Linked DNA regions of Homo sapiens. The protein of the gene in region 2 purifies or fractionates together with the protein of the main gene of each other region. This does not show direct contact. Each region holds a gene or a part of one and is shown on either strand. Other genes may lie near its edges. The genes, in order: PPP3R1, TMCC3 and MIB1.

What was found.
Region 1: the proteins of TMCC3 (region 2) and PPP3R1 purify together in Homo sapiens (affinity purification with mass spectrometry; one large-scale study listed by BioGRID and IntAct). This does not show direct contact.
Region 3: the proteins of TMCC3 (region 2) and MIB1 purify together in Homo sapiens (affinity purification with mass spectrometry; one large-scale study listed by BioGRID and IntAct). This does not show direct contact.

What each region holds. Positions count from the first base shown.
Region 1 is NC_000002.12:68,189,884-68,193,539, reverse strand, and holds part of PPP3R1 (calcineurin subunit B type 1), read left to right. Parts: intron 1-3,656. UniProt on the Homo sapiens protein: Regulatory subunit of calcineurin, a calcium-dependent, calmodulin stimulated protein phosphatase. Confers calcium sensitivity.
Region 2 is NC_000012.12:94,577,461-94,581,116, forward strand, and holds part of TMCC3 (transmembrane and coiled-coil domain protein 3), read right to left. Parts: intron 1,070-3,656; coding exon 934-1,069; intron 1-933.
Region 3 is NC_000018.10:21,841,768-21,845,423, reverse strand, and holds part of MIB1 (E3 ubiquitin-protein ligase MIB1), read right to left. Parts: intron 2,294-3,656; coding exon 2,207-2,293; intron 1,333-2,206; coding exon 1,171-1,332; intron 1-1,170. UniProt on the Homo sapiens protein: E3 ubiquitin-protein ligase that mediates ubiquitination of Delta receptors, which act as ligands of Notch proteins.

The DNA.
Region 1 (3,656 bases), on a different chromosome or scaffold from region 2:
AAATTTTTTCCTGGCTTTGCTTTCCAAGCTGGCCATTTAAAAATATTCTGGATATTTAGGTATGGATTCCTCTAGTTGCTCAGCCTCGACTAGATTGTAAATACTGAGTATTTAGTCCATCTTACTCATCATCGTAATCGTAGCTGAAAGGAGGGGAGGGAGATGAGGAAATAAATGAGTGGTTGGAGAAAAGATAACTGCCCCCATACATGCTGCACTGGCTTCTTAGCTCAAGATCAGTTTTAGCTACATGGGGTATGTGGGAATGATGATGAATGGAAAGATTAGATAGAGCTTGTTCCCTCCTAGTCATATTAAAGGGGCTTTTTAAGAAGTCATTTATTGTCAAGGTAAAATGTGATCACTGGCACATTGCTTTGCCTTTGAGGAAAGTTTTGACTACTCATCCAGAGCAGATATCAACTACTTTATAATGTTTCACAAGATATTAAAACAAGTAAATAAAATTTAACTACTCCTTCTAAGGGCCTTTGCCAGGGAGTGAGATAATGATACAACTATAAGATAAATCATTAGTAACCCCTTTCTTTTATCAGAGAAAAATTGATAGGTGTCTCATAAATGGAGAATTCAGGCAAGGCCATTCCAGCAGGAGGTTTATAAGGAAATGGAGGTATAAAATCTATACTTTAGCAGAGATGTGCCAAGAGCATTGTAGCCAAAGAAAAGGAAATGGGGAAAGAGATAAGATGGAAATTTAAATTTGAGGCTAAGTATTGCCGAGGACTTTAGACTTTTTGTATTAGAAAGCCACTAGAAAATGTAAAGCACAGGAGCTAGCCGTTTGGCTGAATTTGCCTTTTAGAAAGATTACTGTTGGCAATGTAAAGAAGATGGATTGAACCACATATATTTATTTGATTTATGATTATGATTTTCAAGTATTCTTAATATTTTTTATTCATTTATTAAGACTGAAATGCTATCTTCTTGATTGGAGGAGTTTTCTGAGTAGCTAAAACAATCCTTTAAGTGCCTAAATTTCAGTTTCTTGATAAACAACTTTCTAAACTATAATTAATGTCCCCACTTCAATAAATTGACTAATAAATAGTTTGCATAAATATTATCATACTACATTTCTGCTTTTCCTCTTCCCATTAATCATACAGCCTAGAAGAAATGATCCTGATTTGTCCACTTAAAGTTTGTGGAGACATTATCTTTTCTTATCTACTCACAATAGATCACCTTTGTGATCTGTTATGTTTAAATTCCCTGTCACCTTTCCTAGTCTATGGTTGTAAACTAAGGCAAAACTCAAGATTGGAAGAAGAAAATAATTAACTAATCCTTGGTATATGTGTAAAAAATTAAGGCAAGCGTGGAGAGGGTAGCTCTTCAGCAAAATCTATGAACTTTGAGACACTGTTCTGAATGGTTTGCTGATTGGTACCTGGTTAGCTAGTAGTTTTAAATACTGATGGAATTTTAATCAATAAGTTTTACATTTGAAATACTTATTAATACTTAAAACATTATTAAAACCATAATTAAGCACCTGTTATATGTGATGCTCAGAGCACCAATGAAAAAGTCATGGACTCTGCCCTGAGGTGGAGTAGACATATAAATAAATAAGCGAAAAGCATTTGTAGGACTTTCATTATATTTTTTCTCTTTCAAGAGTAAGGGTGTGTCATTTTATAGATAGAAAATGGGGAAATAAGGTTTATTTGAACAGTTTGCAGTTATGTCACATATTCCATTAAAGAAGGAATACTCTTTAATAGAGGGATAAAATGCTTGTGTAGTTGATGTGCTTATGAAGTGCTTATATGATCTTTTTTATCAGATTATTTATATACATTAATGTGCTACATAATAATTTTTGGTCAGTGGCTGACCACATATACACAGTGGTTCCGTAAGATTATAATGGAGCTGAAAATACATGTACAGTCATGTGTCACTTAACAACGAGTTGCATTGAGTAATGCATCATTAGTGTAGCCTAAGTGTACAGAGTTTATAAAGTCTACAGTAATATCCTAGGCCCTTACATTAACTCACCAGTCACTCACTGGCTCACCCAGAGCAGCTTCTGTCCCACAAGCTCCTTTCATGGTAAATGCCCTATACAGGTGTACCATTTAAGTAAAATTTTCATACTATACTTTTACTGTACCTTTTGAATGTTTAGATATGTTCAGATACACAGATATTTAGCATTGTGTTACAATTGCCTACAGTATTCAGTACAGTAAGATGCTGTACAGATTTTGTAGCCTAGGAGCAATAGGCTGGACCATATAGCCTGGGTGTGTAGTAGGCTGTCCCACATAGGTTTGTGTAAGTACACTCTGATGTTCATACAATGATGAAATCTAATGATGTGTTTCTCAGTGTAACCCCATCGTTAAGTGACTCATGACTGACTGTATGTGTATTTTGGTGTTTGCAGCAGTATTTACATAAATTTTTCATCACAGCATTTCTGATACATGTGTTCTAGAAAACCTCAGATGCCATGAAATCACATCTGGGAAAAATATGGATAGAGTAGACCATTCAAATTATGCAGCTTTGTTTGTAACAGAGTATTAACATAAACAGTAATGATCTTAAAAATGCAAGTACAAATTAACTGTACAAATGAAACACCATAGCCCATCACTTATGAGCCTTAAACGGGGACTTGTGCTTCTTTTAAGGTATGGTGCAGGTTGAAGTTATTTGCTTTAGTAGAAACTACTTTTCTAAAATTCAGTAGTGAGCCAATGTATGCCTACCTTTATTAATAGTTGTGGGGGTGAGGGGGAGCATAAAAACAAAAGAAATTGTCTTCACAACTTCATCTGTGTCCTTAGTTTTCACCAGACAACATAACAATTTTAGAAAGACTTGAGGTTCTTAAAGCCCCTAAACTTGTTTTCTCTAAAGGAAAGCACCTCTTCACTATTGTTTTCTTAAGGTCTTCATATATTGAGGGGTTTTTTTTGTTTGTTTTTTGAGACGGAGTTTCCCTTTTGTCGCCCAGGCTAGAGTTCAATGGCGCGATCTCAGCTCACTGCAACCTCCGCCTCCCAGGTTCAGGCGCTTCTCCTGCCTCAGCCTCCCAAGTACCTGGGATTACAGGCGCCCTGCCATCACTCCCGGCTAATTTTTGTATTTTTAGTGGAGACGAGGTTTCACCACGTTGGCCAGGCTGGTCTGAAACTCCTGACCTCAGGTGATCCACCCGCCTTGGCCTCCTGAAGTGCTAGGATTACAGGCGTGAGCCACTGCACCCGGCCTTTTTTTTTTTTTTTTTTTTTTTTTTTAAGAGAAACTTGCCCTGATCCTTTACTGTGAAAAATCCCTGTGAACCAGTGAAATTTCCATGATTACTGACAATACTACTCTCCTTCCTCTTTACGAATTACGTGTGAACTAATTCATATTAGAACACCATCTTGTAGCTGTAGTTTTTACTTTGATAGTATATAGTTCTATTTTAATATAATTTATATTTAAAATATATGCTTTAATTTTTAAGTTCTTACAGTGAGGATGCCATATATTTAAGCTGTCAAAACAGCTTGTATTTGTACTCTTTTCTAGTGTTGTGGGCCATAATACATATATACTCATGGGCAGTATAACATTTGCCTTCTTAATTTTCTTTTTAAAAGTTGTTGTATTTAATTTATTTT
Region 2 (3,656 bases):
CCACCGCGCCTGGCCATGTGAATGCTATTATTTTACAGATGAGTGAATAGGCTCAAGTCTTACTCAGGGCCACACAACTGATATGACAGACGTGGGACTGAACGTGGAAATGTTTTGCTACTACATGACTGACTGCTCCCATGGTCCACAGCTTGCTAGACACCACATGGCTAAATTTCTGTGGCTCACAGAGTCCGTGTCGTGTAAATTGGCCAATGTTTGTGCTGTCTTGAGTTCTTTGGCAGTTGCGCTATCCCACACTCTCCACCTAGGCAGTGAGCTGCTTGAAGCCAGAGATTGTCTCCTATTTTTACATTTTACAGTTTTGGTGGTGATGGGCTTGAGGTGGATAATAAATACTTGTTCATTGATTTAGGCATAAAGTATAAAGAATATTGTCTCTTAGCCAGGCACGGTGGCTCACACCTGTAATCCCAGCACTTTGGGAGGCTAAGGTGGGCAGATCACTTGAGGTCAGGAGTTTGAGACCAGCCTGGCCAACATGGTGAAACCCCGTCTCTACTAAAAATACAAAAAAATTAGCCAGGCATGGTGGCATGTGCCTATAGCCCCAGCTACTCAGGAGGCTGAGGCAGAAGAATCGTTTGAACTCGGGAGGCAGAGGTCGCAGTGAGCTGAGATCACCCACTGCACTCCAGCCTGGGCCACAGAGCGAGACTCACCTCAAAAAAAAAAAAAAAAAAAAAAGAAAAAGAAAAAGAAAAAAAAAAGAATATTGTCTTTTTACTTAGTAATGTCTATAACATGAACTAGTGGGGTTAACGTGGTACAGATAAAATGTTTGTGCAGAGAAAACATTTTGTGCCATGTGCCAGAAACCCTCTAGGACTTAGGCATAAACATTTAGACTGTTAAATGAATTAAGGCTCGGGAAGAGCCCAGGCCTGTGTCTAATCACAAAGGGAAAGGTACCTGGATGTCCCGCGAGCGCTCGTAGGCCTGGTAGGCCACCTTCTCCTCAATGCTGGCCAGCTCCTGCTTCAGGTTGGCTGTCTCATGCTGATGCAGGTCCGTCAGGTCATGCAGCTGGTCCTCCAGTCGCTCATACCTTTAAAAGAGAGGAGCCGATTCCCAGTGTGACCTTTCACAGCACATTGTGGAACGATGTCCTTTTTATCTTCCTGCGCCAGTACCTTTTGGCTTGCTCTCATTCCCTGATGGGCTGTTTTTCTAAAAGAGTAAGGCTAGCTGTGGGAATTGAGCTTTTGGATAACACTGAGTCCCAGCTCTGGAAAGATCCAGTCTCTGGGGTCTTGACTCTCTGTCCTTGCCACTGAAGGTGCACACGGGTCAGACTAGCACCTTAGCTAGCTGCAGTGACCTCAAGATAGAGCTCATCAGCTGATGCACTTGCCAGGGCCAGGCAGGAGACAGGGCTCTGTGGGATCCTGCTAAAGGAGGGCCAGGACCTCTGGTGTCTGTGGTGCCTTTTCCCTATTCTGCCCTGACACTGCTGTTGGGGTTCATGGCCAGAGAGCCCACAGGGAAAGCACCATGCTTTTAGTATCACCTTCTACTCTGGGGTCAACTCTACTATTTCCCAGCATGCAAACACGCACTGATTATGGATTTCAGCTCTTGGAACTTAACTGACAATACAAAATTAAGCTTATTACAAATTATAGATGGTTCATCATGCAGTGTTTCAAAATGTCCAAATCTAAAGGAACAGAAGTACAAAGATTCTCATTCCTGTGCCCTGCCCCTCTCACTGAAGATTATTTTTCTCATATTTGAAACCTTAGCTGGGTGCAGTGGCTCACGCCTGTAATCCTAACACTCTGGGAGGCCAAGGCAGGTGGATCACCTGGGGTCAGGAGTTCGAGACCAGTCTGGCCAACATGGTGAAACCCCGTCTCTACTAAAAATACAAAAATTAGCTGGGTGTGGTGGCACGTGCCTATAATCCCAGCTACTCGGGAGGCTGAGATGGGAGAATTGCTTGAACCCAGAAGGTGGAGGCTGCAGTGAGCCCAGATCGCGCCACTGCACTCTAGCCTAGGCGACAGAGCAAGACTCCATCTCAAAACAACAACAACAAACAAAACAAAACAAAACAAAAAATCTTATACTGTGTATTTTGAAACAGGATGTACTGTTTGGAGAAGATGCATTCATTAGACTGGAATGACTTTGATCAACGCCAATTTCAGATGCTTACATAGGTCACCTGACAGAATCATTTTATAAAGAGGACCAAAGAGCTTCATCCAGATTTAATGCTTATTCTCAGGCATGACTTCTCAGATGTCAAATGCTGCTACTGCTGTGAATAAGCCTTTAAAGGTCTCTTCAGTAATACAGGTGGTGACTGTAACACGCGGGTCACAAACGTAACCACAGGACAGATGCAAACAGAAACCGTCCTGAACTCACATAAATAGGGATCTGTAACTTGGGAGAAAATGTGCATCTAGAAAGTGCTATATCCCAGACTATTTCGATAGAACTGACGTTCATACTCTGGAAAAGCTGTGACTTAAAATATAATTCTTGTGTGACAAAGATTCCAAAGATGCATATGGAAAGATTTTTGTTTCATAAAATTGGAGAATTGAAAAGGCCACATTTCTAAATTAATACAGACATAAAATCATACATCAATTATAAAACAATAAGTAAACTAAATTTAAACTTTTAATGTTATAGTATGTAATAGGCATTTTACTATTTTATCTACCTTTTTAGAAGTTAATGTATTATTAACTTTGACTAAAAAACTTTTGAAGTATCTCTTTATTGGAAAAAATGGGGAAAATGACCTTATATTTGGGCTTACACACTTTGTGTTAATAAGTTATAAGCACCTAAAAGCCAGCCTACAAAACATCTACTTTAAAATTACCTAATATAAGCCAAAGGTTTTGAATGTATACTTTAATCTTAAGATGACTTTGGAAAGTTCTTTATTTTACTTTAGAGTAAAAAGTTTAATGAGCAAACTACAGAACATAAAAAAATACATTACATAGGCTGGGTGCAGTGGTTCATGTCTGTAATCCCAGCACTTTGGGAGGACAAGGCGGGCGAATCACCTGAGGTCAGGTGTTTGAGACCAGCCTGGCCAATATGGTGAAACCCCATCTCTACTAAAAATACAAAAATTAGCTGGGCGTGGTGGTGGGTGCGTATAATCCCAGCTACTCGGGAGGCTTAGGCAGGAGGATCGCTTGAAACCAGAAGGCAGAGGTTGCAGTGAGCCAAGATCGCACCACTGCACTCCAGCCTGGGAGAAAGAGTGAAAACTCCATCTCAAACAAACAAACAAACAAACAAACAAACATTACATAAGGACTTCAAGATTGATGTGCCAAATAAGATTAACTTTGTTGGGTAATGAGTAAGTGTGTACTTGACAGTTGTTATGGAGGGAAATCAAATATAGATCTCTGAATTAGCATAATGACACTATAACGGAAGTCTACTGAATCAGCATCTTAAGATGCACGTGAGTTGTTGCCTGTATCCAATAATTTAAGGACCCACACATAAATCCTTCTCTAATTGTCAGCTAAAAGCCACAAATTATAAACTTAGAATCATGAAGGATGGAAATTATTGGGTATCCCTTATCTGAAATGCTTGGGACCAGAAGTGTTTCAGATTTTGATTTTTTTCAGATTTTGGAATATTTG
Region 3 (3,656 bases), on a different chromosome or scaffold from region 2:
CTCAGACAGAACACACACAAAAAACACAAATGATGAAAGAAAAACTTGATAAATTAGACTTCCTCAAAATTAAAAAATTTGACTCTTCCAAATCACTATTAGAAGAATGAAAAGGGCTGGGTGTGGTGGCTCATGCCTGTAATCCCAGCACTTTGGGAGGCTGAGGCAGGCAGATCACGAGGTCAGGAGATCAAGACCACCCTGGCTAAGGTGAAACCCCGTCTCCACTAAAAACAATACAAAAAATTAGCTGGGCGTGGTGGCATGCACCTGTAGTCCCAGCTACTTGGGAGGCTGAGGCAGGAGAATTACTTGAACCCAGGAGGCGGAGGTTGCAGTGAGCCAAGATTGTGCCACTGCACTCCAGCCTGGGCGACAGAGCGAGACTCCATCTCAAAAAAAAAAAAGAATGAAAAGACAAATCTCCTACCAACTGGGAGAAAATATGTGCATTCACATATAAAGAACTTGTATTCCGATTACATAAAGAACTCTCAAAACTCAGTAGTAAGAAAACAAACAGCCTAACAAAATAATGAACAAAAGATTTGAGCAGACACTTCATAAAATACATATGGTGACAGACAAATGAAAAGATGCTCAATATCAATAGTCATTAGGAAAATGCAAATTAAACCACAATAAGATACCACTACGTATCTATTTGAATGGCTGATGTTAAAAAAGAACTGAATGGCTGGGCGCAGTGGCTCAGGCCTGTAATCCCAGCACTGTGGGAGACCGAGGCGGGTGGATCACCTGAGGTCAGGAGTTCGAGACCAGCCTGACCAACATGGTGAAACTCCGTCTCTACTAAAAATACAAAAATTAGCTAGGTGTGGTGCAGGCGCCTATAATCCCAGCTACTTGGGAGGTTGAGGCAAGAGAATGGCTTAAACCCAGGTGGTTGCAGTGAGCCAAGCACTCCAGCCTGGGTGACAGAGTGGGACTCCACATAACAACAACAACAACAACAGAACTGAACAACTTTTGGTAAAAATGTGGAGCAATAAGTTAGTACTGACTAGTACTAAGTTCATAAACTAAGTTTCTAAGTACATAGCTCTGATAAAATATTTTATCCAATACAGGTTAGATTACCAGTAAATATAAGATCTTGCATGAAAAGATTCTTCCACTGGTACTGAATGAAAGATGATCTTTACTCACCGTGTTTTTGGATGGCTCCCAGGCAGCATCCACCTTCCCCACATCTTGCATATCTTGGAGCTGACGTAGCTGAGACAAAGTGTGATGCCTTAGAGCTTCATGCAAAGGAGTATCCCCATCCTTATCCTGAATATCAAGCTTGGCACCTGCACGGACCAAAAGCTAAAAGAGAAAGATGTCTCATTTTGGCAAAGTGTCCACATCCATAAGAAACTTCAACATATCTAAAGTAATGGTGAGAACACCCTGGACCTACTGAAGAAGTTACCACTAAAGCTAATCATTTTTATGCTTTTGCCTTCTACTCTTCTCCAACCCTGTGGCTCCTTACAAAGAGTCACGTGTTCTGGTTATTTAAATATATTGAATTAGAGAAAATAAAAATATATGAGAATCAATATGTTGCTTAATTCATCTACTCTAAGATGATGATAACGGAGGGATATTTAGGACTTTATTTCTCTTTTCAACTTTAGATGTATGACTTGAGATATTTTAAGCACTTCCACCAGGACCAAATCATAATGTTCAAAATTCTTCTATTATGTAAACAAACAAGGAACTGTTATTATTGATTCCATTCTCTTTTGGTCAATTTTCTCCAAATGTATGGTCATGAAGAAAGCCATGGAGGATATCAAGAGGAATTTCAAATAACAATAAATACGAACAGTGTTTGCTAAACTACAACCCCCTAAATAAAAATGCACAGTTGACATATTTCAATAGATTACTTAAGCAGTAAATATAAGTTTATTAAAACTTTGCTTATGGTGCTTTAACAATTTTCCTAATCCCTTCTACGATACTTACTGAAGAGCTTTAGAAAAGTACCATCTATATATAGAAGCCAATCTCAAGCATATGGTCTCATCTGTCTTGGCAGATCACATTGTATTTAGATATTTAGATTTACTTATATCTAACTATGCCAGCTTGAGACATGTAACACTGTATCATTTCAATTTTCAGGAAGTTCTAAAAATCTGTATGGTTAAAATGTAATTATAAGCTAAAATGTATGTCAATACTTTACCCTAACAATCTGGGTATGCTGTCGTTCAACAGCAAGGTGTAGGGCAGTTTGTTGGTTCACATTCTGGATATCCAGGTTTGCATTACCCTGAACGAGAAGAACAAATGTTAAATGGTTAAAATTTGACAACAGTAAAGAACATGAAAACTATAACTACTCATAAGGAATAAATAACACCGAACACTGCTGGCTACTTTCTCCTTCAGCTGCTGCAATGTTATTCTCATATGGTAACAGTTGCTGTTAAAGTAGAAAAAAATGGATGGGGCAACAAACTTTCTGAAGTAAAACAGCAAGTTTTAAAAATCATTTTTATTATGGTAATTCCACCCAAGAACAGTTAAAAAGGACAAAGCACAGTAGAGTTCAAAGACAGATCTCTTTCAATCTCCACTATAAAGCAATGGAGATAATCAACTCCTTAGAACTCTAAATATTTCCTGAAAAGTTATAATAATGAGTCTTCATACTGGATTTAGATTTACTTTAATGACCTAATAAGTTCACTTCCCCTTGCTGCATATTTGAGCTCTTCCTCACTCTGTGAAAAGAAAGTTTGCTTTAGGTGAGAAGGTAATGCTTAATTCGTACATAAAATTATGCATTAAAGTAAGCAGAAAATCCTACCCAAGAACCTAGGGCAGCTGAAGAACCGTATGAGAACAGCTGAACCCTAATGAAGAAAGAGACTGAGGAGCAAAATAAGTGCACTTGGGAGTCAGGGGACCTAGGTCAAAACTCCATCATCTACTTCCTCAGCTCCAAAATGGTGACAGTTAAAACCTATTTCACAGGGCTAATGTGAAGATTAAGTAAAATAACATATGAAAATGCCTAGCAAATGTCTAGCATAATTTAAAAATTTTTTAAAATGAGATCAAGAAAAGAGCTAAAGATTCAAAAGATAAACCGATCATTTCGTTTAGGTCTTAGAACCATGCATGCCCTCTGGTTACAACTCTTGATACTGGCGGGGTATGCAGAGCTGAAACTTTGGTAATGTTATGTCATATTCTTCAAGATGGGAATTTCTCATTTGTTTTTATTATGTTTCTTTGAAGTGTGGTCAGAAGGTACCTGATCTCAGCTTCTTTTCTTCTTTTTTTTTTTTTTTTTTTTTTTTTTTGAGATAGGGTCTCACTCTGTCACCCAGGCTGGAGTGCAGTGGCACATAGCTCACTGCAGCCTCAAACTCCTGGGCTTAAGGAATACTCCTGCCTTAGCCTTCCGAGTGTCAGCTTAATTCTTTATCATGTCTATTTCTCACATAAATGTGCACAATGGGGATTTTTCTTTAAGTTTCCTGAGCTTTTCCATCATTGACATTTCACTAAGTAGTATTCATTGCATAGGTGCACCACAATTTGCACAATTTGTTTATCCCAGCACTACCTGAACATTTGGCTTCGCTTCCAGTATGGGGCTAATAATAGCTGCTACAAACATTTAG